Regions from separate parts of the Homo sapiens genome. Here all the other regions are reported to be linked to region 1. The links are microRNA targets in miRTarBase. Many come from high-throughput screens and were not tested one by one. Region 1 holds a microRNA gene; each other region holds the end of a gene's coding sequence.

Region 1 (3,184 bases):
TAATGTGACCATACCCTCCCTTTTTCCCCTCCAGACAGCTATTCCTCTTCAAATGCTGAAGTCCTCAACATTATCTTTGGAGAAAGGCACAAACCTCCTTCACGATTATTTCCTTCTCAGTGGCAAAATAAACTTCTAAATTGATTGAGACCTGTCTCAGATACCTTTTGGTTTATACTATCTTGCAGAACTCTTAAGGCAAATGGAAATAGCGTATGTAAAATCCTTTGCAGAATTCCTGACATATAACAGGAACTTAATAAATACTAAATATTGGTAGATATTGGTATGCTTTTTCTAACGTCAAAGAAGGTTTATAGCAGCTATAACTAAATAAAGAAGATTGAAGGCAGCCTTAGCTCTAAAATAAAGTCCCTCTCCCAAGGGAATTTAGGGTCTCTCAGGAGAGATTAGATAAGGACATTCATGAAAACAATCCAGAGCCGTATGGATATGATTGGAATAAAGGGCTTGAAGAAAGAGTTGTATGTAATCTTAGGATGCAGACTTCACTTCTGGCTGGTGCAATCAATGAATGAATGCTTTGTGGAGGATGGAGCATTTGAGCAGGGCCATGAAGAAAGGTTGCTATAGACAGAGGTATCAGGTACTTGCAACTAGAAGGAAAAGAACCAGTACCAGAAAGTGGAAACTATAATGTATTTAAAAAACAATGCAAGACAGTGACTGGTTGGGGATTCCAGTTGATGTAAGGCCATGTCTGGGAAAGAATGCACAGGACAGTATTGTGTCCTCAAAGACCAGCTAAGGGCCGGGCACAGTGGCTAACACCTGTAATCCCAGCACTTTGGGAGGCCGAGGCAGAAAGATCACTTGAGATCAGGAGTTTGAGACCAGCCTGGCCAACATGGTGAAATCCTGTCTCTACTAAAAATACAAAAATTAGTTGGGCATGGTGGCACACACCTATAGTCCTGTGGTCCCAGCTACTCGAGAGGCTGAGGCAGAAGATCACTTGAACCCGGGAGGCGGAGGTTGCAGTGAGCCGAGATTGTGCCACTGCACTCCAGAATGGGCAACAGAGCGAGATCCTTTCTTAAAAAAAAAAAAAAGGAAAAAAAATTGGCTAAGAATTTAGGACTTTCTTAAGGAGATAAAGGGAAGATATTTAAGACTCTCATAGAACACAATTTAGACGGCTAAAAAGCTAAAGATGAATGCAATGTATCATAGCATCATCTTACATGAGTAGGTCTTGGGGCTTGGTTTGGTTTGTTTTGCATTTCACAGTCCTTTACCAGAGAGTTGCAGGTTGTTATCAACATTTTCTGCAGACTTTTGGAGATAAACTGTTTTATCTTAGAGTGATTCCTCCTGATACAATATAATGAGAGGAATACAAACCCCTTTATAGAAAAGGCACACATTTCAGCATACAGCCTAGGTAAAAAGTAAGGGTTAACTGGCTTAGTTGAGATTAATTATATAGATGTTTATTTCCCAGTTGTTATGTGTCTGTAACATAAAAGTGGTTATTGACTAAAAGTAGATGTGCTTCATTAATATCAGTGTGAGGAGAAGAGCAACAGGGAAATGCAGGCACCCATGCCGTGTGGGCTGGAATCTGGAAGACGTGGCCCCTGGCCAGGTATGCGCTGATGACAGGTGACATTCACCTTGCAATCTGCCATAAAATGGGAATCATAATACCTGCTCAGTCCTCCAGATGAAATATTGACTGGAAGTCATATATAAAATCGTCAAGCAAAATGCACAATAAAATTAAAATTGCTACTTTTCAAGACATAGGAAGTGTATTAATTGTTTTTTCCTGCTTCTTTTCTGTCAGGATCAACGTTGAATAAAGTTTTGTCAAACACATCTCACTTGATGCATCTCATATCACTTAAAAAATAACATTGGGAAAGTCTTTCCTTTCACTTTATTCATCCTGACTCTTCTTTGCTAAATATTCTGTATACAAATTTCCACATAACATTATGTTTAGAGTTGTACTATCCACACAAAATGGTTCATATATGGATCTCTTGAAGGTTGCATGTCAGAAACACATTAAACTGTCATTGCCTTTTAGGATACACTTTCCTTTTGCATTTTTATTTGAACAAAAGTCAAGCTTATCCTAAAAAGCAGTGATAGATTTCTGTAGATCTAGGGAATTGTTAATACATTTTGTTATCTGTATCATACATTTGTACACAGCTGCTGAGTAATTCAACTGTTTAGAGTTGAACTAATGTTTTTGAACAATAAGTCAAATTCCACGATTTAATCTACATCACAAGAATTTCACTTCCATGGCATTATGGAAAAATGCGCAATCTGTTGTCAAGGTTGAATTTCATTTCTGCTTTCACAAATAAATTATGCCTGTCATTTCCATTAGACACAGTCCTTACCTAGATCGTTACAAAACATCTTTGAGAAGCTTAGGGCATCTCCTATGTTCCACTTCAGATAGAGATATAATTTACTGAGGGGTTAGAAAGAATGGTCAATAAAGCTGACAAAATATTTTAGCATTTGGAAAAAAATTTAAATGCCTTAGTGCAATAATTCCTGGGGAAACTATGGTCGCTAAAATGACTATAATTCTTATTCATGTTCATTCCCGGTTTAGGGGCCTTCCTTAAAGAAACTAATTTCAGAATTTATTTAAGTCATAATAAAGGGTCTTAAAACCACCTGATTTCCTGAAGTTTTCTTTACCACTCTGATTTCCTGGTGCCTTCCTCTCTTCCCTGTGTCTAGGTGGAGAGTGGGAGGTGCACATATGAGGTAATGATGTGTGTGATGATGTAATGACGTGTCTGATTATGCAATGATGTGTTTGGTGATGAAATGATGAATGTAATGATGCATGAGAGGCTCTTGTTGATTGCAGATGATAAGAATAAAAGACTTAGCTCACTACTTCTGGCAGGGTCTGGTAAGAAGGCATTACCACCCTATGCATTCCAACAGAAGGAATCTATTGAAAATGAATCATTTAGAAAGGGGCAGGAGATCCAGAAGAAGGTAGAAAGGGAAGGTAAGATGGCCAAGAGATTAAGAACTGCAGAAAGCTCCTACCACTTCTGTGCTGAAGGAGTGAAAGAGAAAATGGTTTCACCAAGAGCCCGTAATCCCCCACCACTGAGGCTCTGAGAGTATTCATGGCAGCCTTAGAACCAAGACCACCACCTTGCAGGAATGCAGGAGC
Region 2 (3,184 bases), not on the chromosome of region 1:
GGCTGAGGCAGGAGAATGGCATGAGCCCGGGAGGTGGAGCTTGCAGTAAGCCAAGATAACTGTGTCTCAAAAAAAAAAAAAAAAGTTTCCTAAACTAAACTCATTTTAGGGTCATACCGTTCATGATGTTGGGAATTGAGCACCAGATATTGTCAGTTTTTTTAATCTGGAGACAGCTACAAGGAGGTGATTAAAAGAATGTGTAATTTAGTATTTTTAAGATGTTTAGAGTTTTAAAAACTTACGTTGTTGCTGTCATTGTATTTAAATAGTTATAAAGAATATAAACAATGATATAAGTAATTTTTTTTAAATTCTTCAGATATAATGAAGATCTGGAACTTGAAGATGCCATTCATACAGCCATCTTAACCCTAAAGGTTAGCTCAGTATTCAACAACTGGATTTATAATGATTTCATGATTAACTGCTTAGAAAATTGACCTTTTTTCCTCCCTCCTCAATAGGAAAGCTTTGAAGGGCAAATGACAGAGGATAACATAGAAGTTGGAATCTGCAATGAAGCTGGATTTAGGAGGCTTACTCCAACTGAAGTTAAGGATTACTTGGCTGCCATAGCATAACAATGAAGTGACTGAAAAATCCAGAATTTCAGATAATCTATCTACTTAAACATGTTTAAAGTATGTTTTGTTTTGCAGACTTTTTGCATACTTATTTCTACATGGTTTAAATCGACTGTTTTTAAAATGACACTTATAAATCCTAATAAACTGTTAAACCCACCTTCCAGCCTTTTAGGAGTTGCTAAAATTTTAACAGTTATTTCCTGCTTTTTATCACAGTTGATTTCTGAAGACTACATTGCCAAGCAGAATGATGAAATGACTTTTTCGTTGTCAGGCAATTTTGGTTAAGTCAAATCTTAATGCCCTCTTCGCTATCAGATGTTGCCTGTGTTTCCATAAAGCAAAATGCTGATTTTGGTAAAAAACATGACTGCTTCTAGAGCTGGGAGGATCTGCAGACTTTCACGGATTCATGGAACAAGAAAAGAAGCATAGGTACTTTTAGGTGCCATTAGGTATTGATCAGTGAAATCCTAGGGTGCTCTATGAGATTGTACTAGGCCTATGAAGAGTGGTAAGCCAAATAGGTCTCCATGGGAGATACATTATGTAAATAAATAAACAATGGTTTGCTGGTTCCTGTTGGTGTCTCCACAAGTAGGTAAACATGTTTAAAGGAACCCGGGTTCTTAGATTTTGTTAGACTTTTTAAACTCAAGGATGAGCATAAGTGCTTGAAATAAAATGCTAATACTTAAGTGTCAAAACTATGGCTTAAGGCTCTTGTTAATTCATTAATGTAATCTCAGTATAATAAATAGCTTCACTATAATGAAAGTTATAATTAAGTATCTGCACTCATATGAAGGCAGTGCTTAGGTTTTTTTTTTTAAATTTTTTTTAAGGCAACTTAGGATAAAATCATTAATTTGGTTTACAGAACATAAGGAGAGTTTATAAGCATAATCATTCTTACCAACGTGAAAGTATAGTGGGCAATTCCATGATTTAAATGGAGCTCAGAAGATTCTAAGATTTAGTTAAGGGCAAAAGAACCTTATTTTGGAGATTTTTCTCAGGGTCCCCAGTTCTGTTCCCTACCATCACTATAACACCCATATCTTGTTTTAGGTGGCAAAAGCATTAAGGAGATGAAAGATGGTAACTTTGGCTTCCTGTTTCAAGATGTTTATCTTGGCCTTGTCTAATAATCTCTCTTATGGGCTCTTGATATATTTTGACTTTGGCACACTAGAAAGCGGACATAGTAGCAAAAAGGTCTTTGAAGTCAAGTCTCAGCTATCTCACTTACTGGCTGAGTGACTATGTGAGGTAATTATCTCAGGGTTGGTTGGTTGGTTTGTTTTTTGAGACAATCTCTCTGTCACCCAGGGGGAGTGCAGTGGCGTGATCTTGGCTCACTGCAACCTCATCCTCCCAGGCTCAGGTGATCAATCCTTTTACCTCAGCCTCCCGAGTGGCTGGGACTACAGGCGCGTACCACCATGTTTGGTTTATTTTTGTATTTTTAGTAGAGACGGGGTTTCACCATGTTGCCCAGACTGGTCTCCAACTCCTCAGCTCAAGCGGTTCACCCGCCTTGGCCTCCCAAAGTGCTGAGATTATAGGCATGAGCCGCTCTGCCCGGCCATATCTCAGGGTTTCCTAAGGACTAAATTTGATAACACAAGTTAAAGCCTGGTGTGGTTAATAGTTACTCTGTTAACTGCCGTTGATTTTGTTTAGTCCTTCTATAATGTCCAGTATCAAAAGAGCAAAGCAATGTCAAAATTCTACAAATCAAAGAAGGGAAAATTAAAGGCATGTTAATATTTCAGAGGTAAGGAAAACTCATGTAGGTTTTTATTGTGTGCTAACAAAATTAGGCCTAAAGAATAAAGGGAGGAAAAATCAGCTGAACCAGATTTGATCCAGGTTCTGTTTTCCACCTCCTGCCCCCATTAAATGCAAAGCCCAGTTCCAGTTCAAGCTGCCTACAACACTTCTCCCTTTGTTCTGTTTATTCTTTCCACGGGCCTTAAAATTAAGTTGTTCCTTTTTGTCCCAGTTCTTAGAGTTCTTTGATGTAGCAACCCACTGCATTCCTAAACATTCCAAAACTCTTGAACCATTTCCAGCCTGTGGATTTTAGCTTAAGTATCATAATGTTTCTAATGTTCAGAGCCTCTGCCTTTTGGTTCATTTTGTATCTTCTAACCCTTAAAACATTTTAACTCCATTTGTTCTACTTCCTCCCAGTTCTACTGAACCATGAATTTAAATTTGCAAAGCAATTAATAGCAGTGAAACATGGAGATGCTTAAAATTCACATACACAGGCAATAAAGAATACTAATACAGAGCCTTATAATTATCAAGTGCTGATAACACTCAAGCATCCCTGAAGGAAAAAAAAAAAAACCCAACCTTGAGATAATTACCTTGCACAGTCTCTCAGGCATCAAGTAGGTGATAAGTGAACATTGAAGGGTTTTCATCTATTGCTCAGTTTTCTTCATAGAATGAAACTGCCAACTCTTAGTACTTACCTCACCTTTTTTTCAGGAGTCTACTCACCCATGTAGGCAAGCTCTCTGAGCCCCCCATTGCAAAGAAGAGCAAGTTGATGTTCAGCGAATTGCCCAAGAACATAT
Region 3 (3,184 bases), not on the chromosome of region 1:
TTTAACATGAACTGCCCATTCTGCAAAGAGGAAAAATATGTTGAATTAGTTAAATATCCAATTCAAAAGATGTTACAGTAAAATACATGTAAGACTTAACAAAAAAAAAAAAAAAGGACAGAGACACAATTTCTTATCCTCAATTCTCATCTCCAAAAAGCTATGAAAACCAGTTTATTTACAAAGCTTGGTGACAAAACCTGACCAAACTTGATCTGAGGCTCTTTATGATCTTTAGTTATACTTAGTGGGGATGTTCATAAATCACCACAAAAATAGGAGTATATTTGATAATGAGCTGCCATCCCAGACTTTTTTTTAGTAGTTTTGAGTGAAATATTTTACACAGATCCTATTAGTTTTTGAATAGCTCAAAAATTTTGATGCAAAACACAGCTAGACCTAAGTTTTCAAATAAAGGACTGCAAAGCAGTACTTCCCCAAACTGTTAATGATACAGTGATTCTACTAAATTCAAAGACAGTCCCAATAAATATTTTTGTCCCCTTGTATGTCATGAGGATAAATCTCCAGGGAAAAAAAGGGCATGTCAGAACGATGTGCAGGCTGTGTGAAAACTGACACATGATTTTATAAATGATGTAGCTGTAAGACACTGTGTCATTACCAGAAGTTATTCATCCATAAAGATAACATATTGTGTGGTTGCTAATAGTTATCTCCCTAAAACCGAAAAGTCCCATTCTTTTCAAGTGCTTAGATACAGTGCTTTAGGACATTCTTATGTAGTTCTAGTGCTTAGAATATTCTTTTTTTTTTTTTTTTTTTTTTTTTTTTTTTTTTTTTTTGAGATGGAGTCTAGATGGAGTCTCCCTCTGTTGCCCAGGCTGGAGTACAGTGGTGCAATCTTGGCTCACTGCAACCTCCACATCCCAGGTTCCAGCGATTCTCCTGCCTCAGCCTCCTGAGTGGCTGGGAATACAGGCACGCACCACCACACCTAATTTTTTGTATTTTTAGTAGAGACGGTGTTTCACCATGTTGGCCAGGCTGGTCTCGAACTCCTGACCTCAAGTGATCCACCCGCCTCGGCCTTCCAAAATGCTGGGATTACAGGCATGAGCCAGTGCGCCCGGCCCAGGATATTCTTATTCAGTGCTTCTCAATTTGGTTAAGCATTAGAATCTCCCAGAGAGCTTTGTAAAAATACCCATGCATGGGCCTCATTGTCCAACATTCTGACTAACTTGGTCTAGAAAGGGGCCCTGGCAACAATGTTTTAAAAACTCCTTACATGATGATTCAATGTACAGTCAGAGCTTTAAAAAGTCTCAATATCCAGGCTGTACCTTAGATCAGATAAATCAGAATTTTGCAGTGTGAAACCCAGACATCAGTACTTTTTTAAAAACATGCCCTGGTGGCTGGGCACAGTGGCTCACATCTTGTAATAGATCTTTGGGAGGCTGAGATGGGCAGATCACTTGAGGTCAGGAGTTCGAGACCAGCCTAGCCAACGTGGCGAAACCCTGTCTCTACTGAAAATACAAAAATTAGCCGGGCGTGATGGTGCACGCCTGTGATCCCAGCTACTTGGGAGGCTGAGGCATGAGAATCACGTGAACCCAGGAGGCGGAGCTGAGATCATGCCACTGTGCTGGAGTCCAGCCTGGGCCACAGTGTGAGACTCTGTCTCAAAAAACAAACACATAAACAAAAAAAGCAAACATGCCCTGGTGCTTCCAATGTATACCCAAAGTTTAACCCAATTGTTGCAACCCCCTGATCTAACTGGCTTAAAGGTTAAGGGTGTGATTGTTTTTTCTTCTGTCCTGAAGTAAGTCAGTTCTAGATCATCACCATAGTAGGGCCACCAATAAAGAATTCTAAGCATTATCCACTCTGGTGGTGGTGTATTCATAAATCCTTCCCCAGTTTCTTTAAAAAAGCAAAAGGGGCAGGAGGAAGAAGGTACAGAAATCACATGAGAAACATTTAAAAATACTTTTAGTAAAATACTCTGTACCCTGTCAAAACTCCTTTGGCACACAGTAAATCATAGTGAAGAACAAACATAGCAGAATTGCCTTAGTTGAGGCTACAGTGTAAGAGAGAATACAACTTAGAAGGTAATAATAGAAAAATCATAGCATTTTCCAGCAATTGATATGACAGTAAATTTATAAAGAAATACAATAATTTCCCAGTGACTCTTAACTGTTCAGGATGCCAGTGCTAAACCAGGTTGCCATACATAATTCAAAGAAAGCTAGAAAACACATTCCACATATTAAATTGAAGATAATTTTTGTTCAGAGAGCAACTGAAACATATAGTAAGTTATATATTTTTTAGATATAAGATAAAATTCTTTTGCTTTTAGTTAAAATGATTTTTTTCATACATTCTAATGGACATATGAAAAAGATATTTACTTTTTTTCATCACTAACCCTGAGGAAGGAAGAACAAATGTGGAGTAGGCCACAAAACTCACTAGGAACCAATCTCCACACTTTTCCCAATTGTGAATAGCAATTAATGGGAGAAGTTCAGGATACTACACTTGTTTAGGCTCCCATACACATCAGCTTAAACTATTTAAAATAGATACAACATTTGGGCAACTAGCACAGTGGCATTTCTCTGCTTCAACTGAGAACTATTTTAAATATCATCACTTTTATTTCCTACACTGGTTTAAACAAACAAAACAAAATAAGACAAAACTTGACATTGATTATGTAAGAACTTTCAGTTCAATATATAGTAATATGTAGGGACAATATAGCTTCATTGCTCAAGACTTCCATTCAGCAGGAAAAAAATGCATAAGTTCTAGGAATTCTTCTCTTTCACTAGAAAGACGCTAGCTATTACAGGGGAGTTGATGAGAGGAAAATGTGAAATCCCATCTCAATGGAATACAGGAGGAACTGGCATTTCCGCTTTGCCATTACAGTTATTATTCTTAGGATGAAAGTTGGAATTGCAAATTTAGCTGGACTCACCAGTTTCAACCTGTGGAAATGAAATAAAGTTCACCCCCTGGGCCAAAAACCCCAAGCAGCAGTTGGGAGCAAGAGGGCAATAAGAACAGAAGAAAACAGATTCACTGCGTTGTTATCAAGAATGGGTTTCCCTGCTATGTGCCTTGCCTTATTTGTTGGGCTGTTGACCACCATGCCAGTGCTTTCATCCAACCCTGGAATGGAAAAAGAAGC
Region 4 (3,184 bases), not on the chromosome of region 1:
TGTTTTCTGTTTCTGCAGAGTGTCTATAAATGTGATTTCCTGAACTTACAGCTTCAGCAACCACTCCAGCTTGCACAGGATGCTATAGATGCTTTTTTGAAGCAGCTGAAAAACCCTATTGATTCTCTTCCTGGAGAGCTTTTCCATGTGGTTGTTTTCTCTCTCCTTCTTTCTTATTTTCCATCTCCTTACCAGCGATGGATTTGCTGCAAGAAAGCCCATGAACTGTTAGTGTTAAATGGTTTATTACTAATCATCACACCTGATTCCTCCCATCAGAACCGTCATGCTATGATGATGAAAAGCTGGAAGATTGCTATAGAGTCCCTGGGCTTTAAACGCTTCAAGTACTCAAAATTTTCACATATGCATCTGATGGCATTTAGGAAAATCTCTCTAAAAACCACAAGTGACTTGGTTAGTAGGAACTACCCAGGAATGTTATATATTCCTCAAGATTTCAACAGTATAGAAGATGAGGAATATTCTAACCCTTCCTGCTATGTTCGATCAGATATAGAAGATGAACAACTAGCATATGGTTTCACAGAACTCCCTGATGCGCCATATGACTCAGATTCTGGAGAAAGTCAAGCCAGCTCTATTCCTTTCTATGAGCTAGAAGACCCCATATTACTTTTAAGTTAATATAGAAGCAAAAAGCCCCTTTCAGTCCAGGCTCCTAAACTAATTGCTTACACCAATTGGAAATACTAACATGAACTCAGTACTGAAAACCTGGTTTGCATAAAAGAAATGCAGAGGTTTACAGAGTTTGCTATTTTTTTCTACTTCTCAATTTTAAAATTTATTCTTATATAGAAAGCTTAAAGTTTCATGCAGAGTGACTCATGTCATAGCAGAAACTACTGTTACTTTAGCATTTAGCACTATCATAGAAAGGTACCTTTTTCTCTTTAGTGCTATTGTGAAAACAAGCATAATTTGCTATATGTTTTCCTTTTCAACTTTTCAGTGTTGACTATAAACCATTGAATGGAAAACTTTAAGATGTAGAAAGCTGTAGATTGCACTTTGATGACTCACAAGTTAAATGTGATACAGAAAAATAGATCGGTTAGTTGTTTTGTGATGCACTTATCTTTTTCTTTTTTCTAACTAAAATTGTGATGTTACAGAAAGTCATTTTATGTTCCTTTTTTGTCTGATGATCCAATATTTACTGAACTTTTTGTAATTGGTGATAATTCTTTTTATTTCTTCCTTATATTAAAAGCTCATTTGACAGCATCAGACATTGGGGGAGAGATGTCCCCCAAAGTGTGTATTCTAATTTTATTAGCCCTATCCAATAAACACCATTGCCAAAGTAGTATTTTCATAACTTTCTTGTTGATTTGGGCCTTGGTGTGAAGTATATTTACCTGAGAGTTCACTTTTACTTTTCTTAAACTTAGGCTTCATTTACAAAATGTTTTATTTAAGCAAGGAACAATGTAATACTCAATAATGACCTAAAACACCTTTTTGAAAGGGTTTGCACTTGGAAGAGAGTTTATGTTCTGTTGAAACCAACTTTGATAGGGTCCTCACCTTTCCGTTAAGGAGGTGCCGCACTACAAGTTTCAAATTATATGGAAAAACCTAAAATTAACCCTCTGTTGGTGATCTCATAAAATGGTTTTGACCTTTTGGTATCTTAATTTCTATCTAAACTTTATCAGAAAATTTTCTTTGAATATATCAATTAGTTGGCTGTGGGAATTTTCCCTTTCCACATTAATAAATGCCTTTCTGTGTTTCTGAATCAGAAGCAAATGATTAGGGAAAAATATATGTCCAAACAAGACAAGATTAGTTTAAACAGTTAAGAACATTTAGTCCACATTGTCTTGTCAGCCAGCAATTGTCATGGAAGCTATCATTTTTAAGAGTGCCACTGTGTGGATTTTTTTTTCAAGTGGTTATTACATTAAAATTACCTCATACTGAGGTTTTTGCACTGAAATATCACAGTTTCAGATTTCATGGTTAATGTTGTGCGTATGTTTGTATGTTTTTAAAGGAAACTTGCATTTTCAATAGTTGATCCTAAATTTCATAAACTGCACTTCTTTACTCTGGTAAAGCTGATGTTTTTGTGCTTATTGTGAATTGCCGTAGTACCTTTGAATGTCAAACTTTATTTAGAAATATAAAACTTATCCTTTATGATATAAATGGTTGAGTGTATGTACCCAGTATTTCTAATTAAATTTCACATGCTAAATTAATGAAAGTAACAAGATTGTAATTTTTTAAAGTCAGTTGATTAAATGCAATAAATATTGGTTGCTCAAATATGCCACAAATAACTCGAAATTTTTCATTTACTTTCAACAGCATAAGATTCTTTAATATTTAGGATTGACTGTTCTTTCCAGTTAAGCACTGAAGGATTATGTCTTGTAGCTTCCCCAAGAGAAGGGGAAGGAAAAAAAAGCACTATGTTAAGGATAATACAGAACTCTTTTGAACTATTTTGGTAGTACCTTTTACCATACTGTTTGCTTTTTGATTTGGGTAAATATCTTAAGAGCAAAGAAAACAATACACCAAATGAAAATGCTTTGAAAGTAAATGAAAACAGCGCTTTTGAAAGGCTGGTATAGTATGACCCTGGAGTCAGCCTTTGTGTTACAGCGAAAATGTTGGTGCTATAAATTCTGATTGTTTACAGATGTTGATTCTGCTTATGCTCCAAAGTGTGCATGATGTATTTTACGTAGTACTCTGAGGAAGTCTCTTTATAAAACCTACTACCACTTAGTATAAATTTGTTTGAATTTATATCATTTGTTACTGTAAATTCAGCTTATTCCAATTAGGTTGGCACAGATTTAAACTGATACACATTCCACAAAAACCAATTCAGTGTATAAGTATTGAAGTATAAGCAGTCATTGCAGCTTGATGCCAGATCATGTATGTAATAACAAGTGGAAGTTAATAGGGCCTTCTAATACTGTATGGGTACTCCTAAGAATTATTTCATTTTGGATATAAAGAAGTTATGAGGCCTCCTGTCACATTCACAGCTGGTTCTCCAAAATAATTTGGTTGTTTCAAAAACAAATGGTAATCATTTGGTTGGATTCTTCAGTATCATGACTAGATCATGTGGTTTTACCATAGTTGCCAAGTGGTGGGAGGTAGCATACCTGAAAATGTACGTGTGTGTTTG

What was found. The annotated mature microRNA hsa-miR-651-5p reads UUUAGGAUAAGCUUGACUUUUG and lies in region 1 at 2,088-2,109, opposite strand. An mRNA with a match to its seed (bases 2 to 7 or 8) in the 3' UTR can be bound and repressed. Matches are read on the target gene's strand: a 7mer-m8 pairs with bases 2 to 8, a 7mer-A1 pairs with bases 2 to 7 and ends in A, and an 8mer does both.
Region 2: the mRNA of PSMA2 is a reported target of hsa-miR-651-5p. Seed matches in the 3' UTR shown: 7mer-m8 at 724-730.
Region 3: miRTarBase lists TMEM19 as a target of hsa-miR-651-5p. Seed matches in the 3' UTR shown: 7mer-m8 at 2,932-2,938 and 7mer-A1 at 731-737.
Region 4: miRTarBase lists SAMTOR as a target of hsa-miR-651-5p. Seed matches in the 3' UTR shown: 7mer-A1 at 681-687 and 8mer at 2,050-2,057.

Annotation. Positions count from the first base shown.
Region 1 is chrX:8,125,905-8,129,088 of GRCh38, reverse strand. It overlaps MIR651 (microRNA 651), which reads right to left and starts at 2,124; the gene lies at 2,028-2,124. All of the region lies in intron 1 of LOC107985675 (a long non-coding RNA gene), which reads right to left.
Region 2 is chr7:42,914,974-42,918,157 of GRCh38, reverse strand. It overlaps PSMA2 (proteasome 20S subunit alpha 2), which reads left to right. Exons shown (of 8, transcript NM_002787.5): 7 at 323-380; 8 at 468-1,297. The coding sequence ends at 584. Among named protein-coding and RNA genes, the nearest start is that of C7orf25, 4.5 kb to the right of the region's middle.
Region 3 is chr12:71,700,813-71,703,996 of GRCh38, reverse strand. It overlaps TMEM19 (transmembrane protein 19), which reads right to left. Exons shown (of 6, transcript NM_018279.4): 6 at 1-3,165. The coding sequence ends at 3,002. Among named protein-coding and RNA genes, the nearest start is that of TMEM19, 16 kb to the right of the region's middle.
Region 4 is chr7:112,819,208-112,822,391 of GRCh38, reverse strand. It overlaps SAMTOR (S-adenosylmethionine sensor upstream of mTORC1), which reads left to right. Exons shown (of 5, transcript NM_152556.3): 5 at 19-3,184. The coding sequence ends at 648. Among named protein-coding and RNA genes, the nearest start is that of TMEM168, 30 kb to the right of the region's middle.